3 linked regions of the Homo sapiens genome follow. The protein of the gene in region 1 purifies or fractionates together with the protein of each later gene. This does not show direct contact. Each region holds a gene or a part of one and is shown on either strand. Other genes may lie near its edges.

Region 1 (2,729 bases):
ATTTTCATACTCTGATCTGGATCTTTATTACAGCAGACATTATTTATTTCCCTTGATTTTATTCTTTTTTCTCTTTTTAGCTTCTGGAGCAAGATTGAATGTCTCTGACTGGTAATTATTCTATAGATAAAGCTGTAATGAGTTTCGACACACCTCCTGTTTCTTGTTTTCCCCCCTATTTTAAAAAATGATGCCCCCTATATTCTGAGACTGACCTGTATTTCCTTAACCAGGCCTGTGGCCCGGGATGCTGAGGACCATCAGGTGTGAACTGAGCTTAAAAATAAATTCCATGGCTGCTTTTGTCACCCTTGCATGCTGGTCACTCTGCCCTCAGCAGGTATGGATGATGACGCCACTCACAGATTCAAAGAAAGGGCAAACTGGCAGAGTGAGTCATTGGATGTTGCTGGCACAGCTATAAAGATCCAGTGGCCCAAGTTGTGTACCTGAATTCAAGCAGTGGGACAAATGAGGGTTTGGCATGCAGCTCGTCATCTTAAGAGTTACTATCTTCTTGCCCTGGTGTTTCGCCGTTCCAGTGCCCCCTGCTGCAGACCATAAAGGATGGGACTTTGTTGAGGTAGGTGAACGACTCAGGACCACATTATTACATGGTGACCATTGTGGGCTCTTATTTCGTGTGTGTGTGTATGTGTGACTGCATGGTATAATGATAAATACACACATTAATATTACACATGAAAACATTTTATTCTATCTATGTGTTCATTTTTCTCTTCTAATTTTAAGAAAAAAATTAATTTTTTGTAGCCCCTAAAAGTGTTTTTGGGCCCTAGGCACTGTGCCTTCTGTGCCTAATTCAGCCCCATTGCTCATCTCTCACTTTCTTAGTCTTCTATATGGCATAGAGTGAACACTCCAGTATATAGGTCTCTGATCTATATACTGGAGTGAGAGATCAAGGGAAATCATTCAAATAAATTAATGGGACCTTCACATTGACTGAGTAATCTCCCAGTCGGTCTACCACACACTTTCAATTTCTAAAAAAATTATGAATTTGCTCCAAACTTTTAAGCATCCAAAATACCTAAAAAATGTTATAACTGGTTGCAGTCATGTATTTTGTAATTGTATAGGAACCTAGTCAAATTTCCTGCTAATGTTTAGTCCAGAACAATACAATAAGTCATTTGCCTCTTAGTGCCCAGCTCAGCTGATAATAAAACAAAGGCATAAAAATGCAGTCATATAATTTAAAAAAAACAGTCAATAGGTTTACGTCAAGTACTCATAAGAACTGTGGAATAATAGATCAAGCTGTATCAGACATGAGCATTGCCCTTAAAGTATTTTGAGTCCAGCTAGCATTCAAATACAGACAGAGAAAGCCTAATTACAATACAATGTGCTTTTTTTGTATTTAGAAGTTTACATTTAATACACTAGACTGGCAGAAAAATCAGTGGAGACAAGGAATAGGTAAACAACGGGCTCTTTAAAAGTAACTTAATGAAATGGAAGTAAATGCAAATGAAATGGGGAATGCAGAACCAGCCAAATTTTATGTCCTGGAGTGATTGATTGTATCCTGATTAAGAAAACCTCCATCAGTCAGAAAGACCAGAGGCCATCTTCCCCGGGGAATTCCCAGGTAATATCTTCCTGTCGTTTATACTTGGGTTTCTCCATCCTAAAACTTGGAAGCTTTTTCTTTTAAAAAAATGTTATAGTTTATCCATGTTATTTTTATTCTGTCACTTCTCATTCATATCATTTCACTGTGGCATAAAGAATCAGGGATGGCTGCCATCATCTGACTGAGAACAGGAGACTTAGGAAGGCCAGACTAAGTACCGTCCTTCTGAGACCCTCAAAGAAGGCTATGCCCAGGGTAACTGATATATGGGTCTTCCCTATTGACTCTTAGTACTCATCCTTCTTGATCTGATTCAGGGCTATTTCCATCAATTTTTCCTGACCAAGAAGGAGTCGCCACTCCTTACCCAGGAGACACAAACACAGCTCCTGCAACAATTCCATCGGAATGGGACAGACCTACTTGACATGCAGATGCATGCTCTGCTACACCAGCCCCACTGTGGGGTGCCTGATGGGTCCGACACCTCCATCTCGCCAGGAAGATGCAAGTGGAATAAGCACACTCTAACTTACAGGTGCTTGTTACTAAGGCCTAGAGGATAATGTGTGGGGTGATGACCTCAAAGGGCTTTCTACCAGGTCTCTCCTGGAGGTACCTCTACTCTCTTCTGCTTTCATTGGCAGCCCGCTCAAAGCCCAAAATCTCCCTCAGAGAAGGTAATACTACCAGATCCTTTTCTAGCTTCCTCTAACCATCTCTTTAGAAAGTAGAGAGCATAACCACTATCCTTTCCCTTTGTTAAATCTTTTCTTTTTAATTTTAATGCGTGAGTGTGTGGATGGTTCTAAGGTACAATTTTGAAAACTTAATTTCTGCCTAGGTTACTCTTTCTGTTGGGGATTCTAAATATACTTGAGATATCTAAAGCAAGCAGTACTAAATTATGTAGAATGCTATACATTTTAATTTATGTAGAATGCTGTATATTTAATTTAATTTAATTTTGTTCACATTGTTTTATTTACTTATTTTTCCCCAACCACCAGATAGGACTGTCATTCTTAGACTTTAGCTGACCTAAGAATAATTTGGGATATTGTTAAAATTCTTAGAAATCTATATTTGCATGTTTAATTCCTTAAGTTTCTGATTTAATTAGTCT
Region 2 (3,656 bases), on another chromosome or scaffold:
TGTGTGTGTTTGGGGGGGTTAGGGTGGGGGGAAGGGGAGGTGGTGTGCAGGGAGGGGGTTGGGCATTTGCTGAAAATAGTGCAGTGACCTCTCTCTCCCACCAGCGCCGCCTACTAAACCTGACCTGCTGCCTGCCACCAGCCCGATCAATTCAACACAGATGTGGCCCCTTTTCCTCCCCATCAGAGCTCGGCATATGTGTGCTGGGTACTCTCTCGAGCCCCGTTTCCCTCTGTGGCTCTACCTGCTTCTCCTTTGTTCCTCAGTCTGTACCCTTTCTATCCTTTCTCTCCTTTACCCCACTAGGTTTAGCTTCCTCCCACCTTTAGCTTTCTAACCATCACCCACTCCTTTCTATCACTGCCTCTGCATCAGGATTCTCAAACTCTCAAACTTATTCTCCCTTTGCCATGATTATCCCCTGCATCTTTCCACTCTAACTTCTATTTCTCTCCCTATATCTACTAATATGCCTTCAACTCTTAACAGTCTCTTCTCTATTATCTCCCTCACCATCTCCAGTCTCTCCCCTGGCTCTTCTCCCTGCTCTTTTCTTTCTCCCTATGTTCTACCTCCTTGTAGCACTGACTGTCCCCTGTCCACTGGGACAAGTATGTGGAACCAAAGACTTAGATGTAGCCCTCATCTTCAAACCCTGGATCAGCTTAGGTAGAGGGAGGGTTATGTTTAGAGCTTAGTAGAGAATGCGAAAATAGTAGTAGCTTCTCAATAAATGTTGGTTTGTTTGTTTCCTATTTTCACATTCTCTAGTTAATGCTCAGCACTCATGTGAAGCAAGAATTATTATTATCTGTATCACACTGAGAAGTTTGGTGAGTAAGGTTAGATAGTGGTTAGTAAGGAATCAGGCAGTGATTAAACCCACTTCAATTATAGCCAAAGAACAGAATTTAGATGCCAGGAAGAACTTTCAGGCACTTGCCTGTATAATTTAAGATTGGGAGTTTAGGGAGTTCATTCACCATGTATTTATTGAGTGCTGTCTAGCACTATGGGAGGCACTGAAGCTACAATGGTGAGCAAAACAGACACAGTATGAATAACAACAGTGTCCACTCTCATGGAGATTAGTACCTAATGGCAAGAAAATAGACAATTCTTATGCTGAAATTTGTAAAGTATGCTATTTGGGATGTTGCTTGTCACTCCCCATCTCACTAGTAGCTTCCCTATCCCAGCTACTTCTGATCTCTGAATTCTCACCCCCCAAACCCTACTCCATTGCACCATCACTGAAGCTCCAGCCAGTAAAATAACTGGACTACCAGGGCCCTGGGACCTCAGAGAATAATCAAGAAAAAAAAAAGCTATAGAGACTTTGGGTATCATATCCTGAATATATGAAGTTCATTAAGCACTTTCTCCTCATCTCCCTTAGAAGGTCCTCTTTCTCCCAGGGTGGGGGTGGGGAAGAGCTGACAGGACACCCTAAGTCCATCCTGATTTTGCAGAACTCAAGACATGGGGAGGATACTTAAAGGCCTAGACTTCCTAACCCTGCTTATATGGCTCTGGAAGCTCATTCCTGATTCTTCCTATCTAGAGTCAGGATAGACATATTCTGTCCAATGGAGACATGTTGTAGGACACTCCCAACTGACTTAGGAAAGGCAGTGAAGAGGAGCTGGAATGGAGGCAGAGGCAGATATTTATTGAGAATCATCTATTAGACCCAAGAAGGATCAATTTAAGGTCCAGAGCAAGGGGAAATGGGTCAAAATGTAAAGTTGGGATGTTCAAACTTTGTAAAGACCTACTGGCACTAGACTGAGAAGTCAAAGGAAGCTCAGGGGAGAAAAAAGGCATTGTAGTTAATCTGGTGTATTTAATATTATTTCTGGTGCTTTAGGCAAATAGGAGGCAACACCATGGAGGTAATTATTCCTTTCCTCAAGAGCTGGGGGCAGTCATGGTGATGATGATGGAGCAGCAGCTGAAGAAACTTCTTAAGAGAGAATGGGGAGACAGATGTATAGGAAGTGCTTGGATAGTTCCATTTTGCTGGGTGTTATTCCTAATGGGAGTGAGGCAAGAAGCCTAGATCTGAATTCTGGTTTACATAATGGGATAAATTTAGCTCATGCTCCCTATCTGGACCCTGGGTTATCCCCTCTCTGAGGCCATCTGTGTTATTTTGTGGGGGAGGGATGTGCCAGGCTCTACCTGTCCAGCAGATAAATCAGAGCAGATAGGGGAAAGGTGATGGAAGGGCAGCAGGTGTGATAAGAGGTATGGCTTCTATAAAGAGCTTCAAAGATTCAGAAAATGTTGGAGCCTTATATGCTGGGAAAAGTTGGACAGTAAGGATGGTGGTGGATGAATAATTTTGCAGGTTATCTGGTAGACAGGAACCTATATATTAGGGCAAATGGATTAGGAAATGGACACAGATCAGTAAGGCCTTATAGGGCCATCATCCTAAAGAGGAAGTGCTGTTTTAGGTACCGGAGACATGGTATAAGATAGGCATGGGAGAAGGGTAAAGAAGAACTGGAAAATCAGGCTGAGAAGTCCAAAATTGCCAGTGCCACCCAGGACTACTGATCCCCTACACAAACACCCTTTGCTGATGCTGTGCCCTTCTCTCTTATCAGCGGACCCAGCAGTACAGACAGATGGCAGCCCTCTCTGCTGCCATTTTCACTTCAGCCCCAAGGTGATGTTCACAAAGGTACTGAAGGCCCAGCTGTGGGTGTACCTACGGCCTGTACCCCGCCCAGCCACAGTCTACCTGCAGATCTTGCGACTAAAACCCCTAACTGGGGAAGGGACCGCAGGGGGAGGGGGCGGAGGCCGGCGTCACATCCGTATCCGCTCACTGAAGATTGAGCTGCACTCACGCTCAGGCCATTGGCAGAGCATCGACTTCAAGCAAGTGCTACACAGCTGGTTCCGCCAGCCACAGAGCAACTGGGGCATCGAGATCAACGCCTTTGATCCCAGTGGCACAGACCTGGCTGTCACCTCCCTGGGGCCGGGAGCCGAGGGGCTGGTGAGCAGGGGGCCTGAGGTGGTGGATATGTGTAACCTGGCCCTGAGGAGATAGGGTTACATTGGAAAAGGTAGACAAGGAATGTGAAGGAGGTTGGGGACCAGCATTACTTCTCTGGGGTCAGCAGCTGATTCTAGAGGAGGAGGTGAGGAGTGGGGTGGCAACTATTACTTCTCAAGGATCCAAATCAGACAACAGCTGAAAACTGGATTTGAAGGTAAAGGTGTCAGTTAATGGAAGAGCTGTGAGAACAAAAAAACTGGCTGTTGAGGCGTTGGGCCAAGGGGCTGACAGGGATCAGGTTGCCAGAAGAGTAAGAATTAGAGATGGTGAGTTGAAGGAGAGCTAGCTAGCTGGCAAGAAAAGTGGGCAAAAGATAAATTCTGGGGGTGGGAGCAATGGAAAAGCTGAGAAGTCAGCAGTCTCTATTCTGATGCCCCTGGCAGGTGGGAAAGGAACAGGGAAGAGGAACTGTTCAGGACCATATCACATTTCTTTCCCCTCTCCCTGACCCTCAGCATCCATTCATGGAGCTTCGAGTCCTAGAGAACACAAAACGTTCCCGGCGGAACCTGGGTCTGGACTGCGACGAGCACTCAAGCGAGTCCCGCTGCTGCCGATATCCCCTCACAGTGGACTTTGA
Region 3 (3,756 bases), on another chromosome or scaffold:
TCTACCACCGTAGAAGTTTCTTGTCCTTTCTCCATTAAGCCTAACACTTTGAACACCCAAGTTCACTTTTTTTTTTTTTTGTCTTGAGACGGAGTCTGGCTCTGTCGCCAAGCTGGAGTGCAGGGCACAATGTTGGCTTGCTGCAACCTCTGCCTCCCGGGTTCAAGCGATTCTCCTGCCTCAGCCTCCCGAGTAGCTGGGACTACAGGCAGGCACCACCACGCCCGGCTAATTTTTTGTATTTTAATAGAGACGGGGTTTCACCATGTTGGCCAGGATGGGCTCCATCTCCTGACCTCTTGGCCTCCTCAGCCTCCCAAAGTGCTGAGATTACAGGCATGAGCCGCCGCACCTGGCCAAGTTCACATTTTTAAAGACTCCATCTGATGCCTGACAAATTGGTATAATAATAGATTGACATTTGTTGTTTTACTCTAGGTCCAATTTAGAAAATGATTTCCATTTTCTCTCTTTCTGTCTCACTGAAGGCAACTGATCTGTCAATCAAAACTTTAGATTTATAATTTTTTCTGTAATAAAAGACGTGCTATTTACAGAGTTCTTGTGCAAAAGTAGTTTAAGTGAACCCAATTAATAATTCAAGAATGACTTTGTAAGTTTCTTCCTCTATTACATCTGAATTCATTTTACATTTTACATCTATTACATTTGAATTCATTTTAATGAAAAAGCCTTTCAAAGTTGTCTTTCCAAAGGGAAGATTAATACACTATTTCTTAGAGATACCATCTAAAAAAGTTAGTATCTTTCTTTCTTTTTTCTTTTTTGGAAACTCGCGGTGGTGGTAATGTGAGTGAGTTTGTCAATCTTTGCCCCTACTGTGAATTTGAGAAGCAGAGGAAGAGAAAAAGAGAAAGACCCCCCCGCCCCCTGCCTCCCACCTCCCGCCTCCGCCCCTCCCTCTAGCACACAGCAGGTGCGCAAGGAGTGCAGTGTTAGCTGCTGCTGGACTGAGCTCCTCATCCTACACTTGCAGGGGTTGCTCTTTTGGACAGAAAGCTGGAATAAAATGTAAATTTTAGACTTCCACCAAGGCCAGGACTAGGGTGAAGGGACTAACGCACTAGTCTCAGGAGCAACTGTTAAGTAACGCTAATCCTGAATGAATGAAATAGTTTTAAAATTGAATGTAATCGCAAAGAAAAAAAACCCATGATAGACAAAATATTAAAACTTTAAATAAAGGCTTGCACTTGCAGAACCCAGGCTCACCGGCCTCTCCCTGCTCCTGGCCCGGTTTCCCAGCTTGGTTCTCTACAAGTCAGAATTCCTAGCAAAATCAAAGTGTGCGCGCGTCTGCCCGAGTACACGCCGCAGAGTTATTTCTGCCCCATCTTCCCTATTTGAACTCAAACAGGACAGCATTTTCCTGGGTGCAGCCCCTGCGTTGGGTGAACAGCGCAGTGATAAAGCCTGGCGTTCTCCACCTGCAGGCGGAGGCTGACGGCGCGGTCTTTGGCGCGAGTCCGTGCACCGCGGCCGCCCCGCCCCGGTGGGAGAGAGGGACGGAGGAAGCTGCCGGTATAACGGGAGGAGAGCGCCAGGCGGAGCTGGGGCGTCCCTCCCGCTCGCTTCTTGACTCGCGTTGGTGCCGGCCGCCTCCCGCGCCTAGTGTCCGGGACGCGCCTGAACCTGCCGCCTCCGTGCCTGGGGCGGCGCCGCGCGGCCCCCAGGCTCCCGCGGGGCCGACCTCGGAGACGCAGCTGGGGCCGGGCGCGGCTTGGCGGGAGGGTCTGCAGCGCCGAGGGAGGCTGCCAGTGCGTGAGGAAGAGAGCTAGAGACTGGACAGGGGAGACAGAGCAGCGTCGGAGCCGCGCAGGGGACGGGAGTGAGAGCGGGAGTGAGAGCAGGAACGACGCAGAGCGGCCGTCGCCGTGCCCGGGTCTCAGGGCGCCTGGCTGAAGTGAGCATGGCTTCAGTGGCCTGGGCCGTCCTCAAGGTGCTGCTGCTTCTCCCCACTCAGACTTGGAGCCCCGTAGGAGCAGGAAATCCACGTAAGTACAGCAAATGGTTTAAAACTTGCGCTAGGCTGTCTGGAAAACTTTGTATTTTTTTATTATCGGTAATATTTGGAAGTGGAATTGCAGAACATGCTCCTGAACATGAAGAACCTTAAAAAAATATTTGGAATTGCAACCCGAAAAAGACGATTTTGTTTACAATAGACTTTCCTCTTGTGGGGGAGTCTAAGATATACCATGCATGTTTTGACTTTTTAATCGATGTTCTTGAATATTCATTGAGAAAGTGGCCGTTTCTGTAAAACCTGAAAAGAGCATCTTAATAAGAGATTAGCCTGCAAATGCTGTCATTTATTCCTTTTTAGGATTGTAATATTTTGTAGGAATTAAGTCTAACAGGGAAAAAACTGGCAGACATTACATCATACTGCATCAACTTAGATGTTAGCAGCTTACAGTTTTGCCGACCTTGGCAGCTTCAGAGTTAAAATGCTAATTAACTTCCACGCAGTATAGGGACAGAGTGCCTGTAGGCGAAACTAAATTAATAACCTGCCCTAACTACTAAGGGAATAACACTTGAACACCCCTGTCAGGGGCTTCGTTTCTCAGTAGAAAGTTCTTGGTTAAAGACAAAACTCAGCCAGTCATTTAGGTGATCTTGAAAATGATTCCTCTCTGGATGCTAATATTTTACATTATTTAATTTGCCATCGGGTTCCCTGTTTTTTATTTTACTTAATTTGGTAAACACCTAGGAAGCTTTTATTTCTAGAATGGGCTATGATTCTAATATAATGATGATATTCCAGACAGATGAGCAAAACATAATGTACCCATATTTTATCACACATAAAAATGTTTACACAACATTGCACATTTTTTTTTCGGCTTGGAGTAAATCTCTATCAGAGAGTCGTCTTTCTTTCTTGATTAATGAAACCATGAGATTAGAATTTTTAAAATGTCTTCCTCCTCCTTCTCAAATCACTTTTATTTTTCTTTCAGTGGCATCTCCCTGCTGTCAGCCTCAGCCCTCTCCTACCAAAATCTCTTTCGAAATAAGTTCCAATAAATGCTAGTGGCCATGTTTGGAAATTTAGATTATTGCAGGATAACCAAGGGTAGCTTTCAGCAGTTTTCCTAAGCTGTCATGAAAAGTTTGCCGTAGCTCAGTGCTGTTCTGCCTGTGGGCTCAAGGGTGGGTTGTTTCTTCACACACAGGGCACGCACATGGGTTCATGCACTCACTGTGCATCATGATTCAGTTGTGCCTCAGTTAATCCTACACTTGGTGTGCCCTTCGAAAAAACAAGCTCCGGATTGCTTTGGTCAGATGCTGTACCGTGTTTCAGATTCAACTTTAATCTGCTTTTGTGAGAGGGCTTTGTGAATAAAACGTTGTTACTTAAATTAAAATCCTTGGGTCTTGTAATGGAAACTGCCGTTTGGCTTAAATAAACACATAAATGAGTTACTTATAGAAAGGCATGCTAGAGTAATTGACCAATCAACTGGCAAAATACAACAAAATAAGTCACTAGAGGTCACTCTTACTATTGAATAAACAGGGCTTCAAAAAGACCTTCCTGGAGAAAAATGAAATCTGAGATCCTGCCACCACCTTTCCTGTTTTTGTTGCATAGTTGTGATTACTTTTTATTCTCAGGATTAGTTGTATTGATAGTTATTTTGCTTGGAATCCAGTGGAAGGATTACAAAGCCCATAGAAATTAAGCTCTTCTCATTTACAGTGAACATTCTTTTTGGAGGA

The links.
Region 2: the proteins of MMP26 (region 1) and GDF11 purify together in Homo sapiens (affinity purification with mass spectrometry; one large-scale study listed by BioGRID and IntAct). This does not show direct contact.
Region 3: the proteins of MMP26 (region 1) and CNTNAP3B purify together in Homo sapiens (affinity purification with mass spectrometry; 2 studies listed by BioGRID and IntAct, with this or other methods). This does not show direct contact.

Annotation. Positions count from the first base shown.
Region 1 is NC_000011.10:4,987,728-4,990,456, forward strand, and holds part of MMP26 (matrix metalloproteinase-26 isoform 1 preproprotein), read left to right. Parts: intron 1-340; 5' UTR 341-484; coding exon 485-583; intron 584-1,391; exon of another isoform or gene 1,392-1,618; intron 1,619-1,920; coding exon 1,921-2,141; intron 2,142-2,729. UniProt on the Homo sapiens protein: May hydrolyze collagen type IV, fibronectin, fibrinogen, beta-casein, type I gelatin and alpha-1 proteinase inhibitor. Is also able to activate progelatinase B.
Region 2 is NC_000012.12:55,745,971-55,749,626, forward strand, and holds part of GDF11 (growth/differentiation factor 11 preproprotein), read left to right. Parts: intron 1-2,615; coding exon 2,616-3,013; intron 3,014-3,531; coding exon 3,532-3,656. UniProt on the Homo sapiens protein: Secreted signal that acts globally to regulate anterior/posterior axial patterning during development. May play critical roles in patterning both mesodermal and neural tissues. It is required for proper vertebral patterning and orofacial development.
Region 3 is NC_000009.12:42,127,269-42,131,024, reverse strand, and holds the start of CNTNAP3B (contactin-associated protein-like 3B precursor), read left to right. Parts: upstream 1-1,598; 5' UTR 1,599-1,930; coding exon 1,931-2,015; intron 2,016-3,756.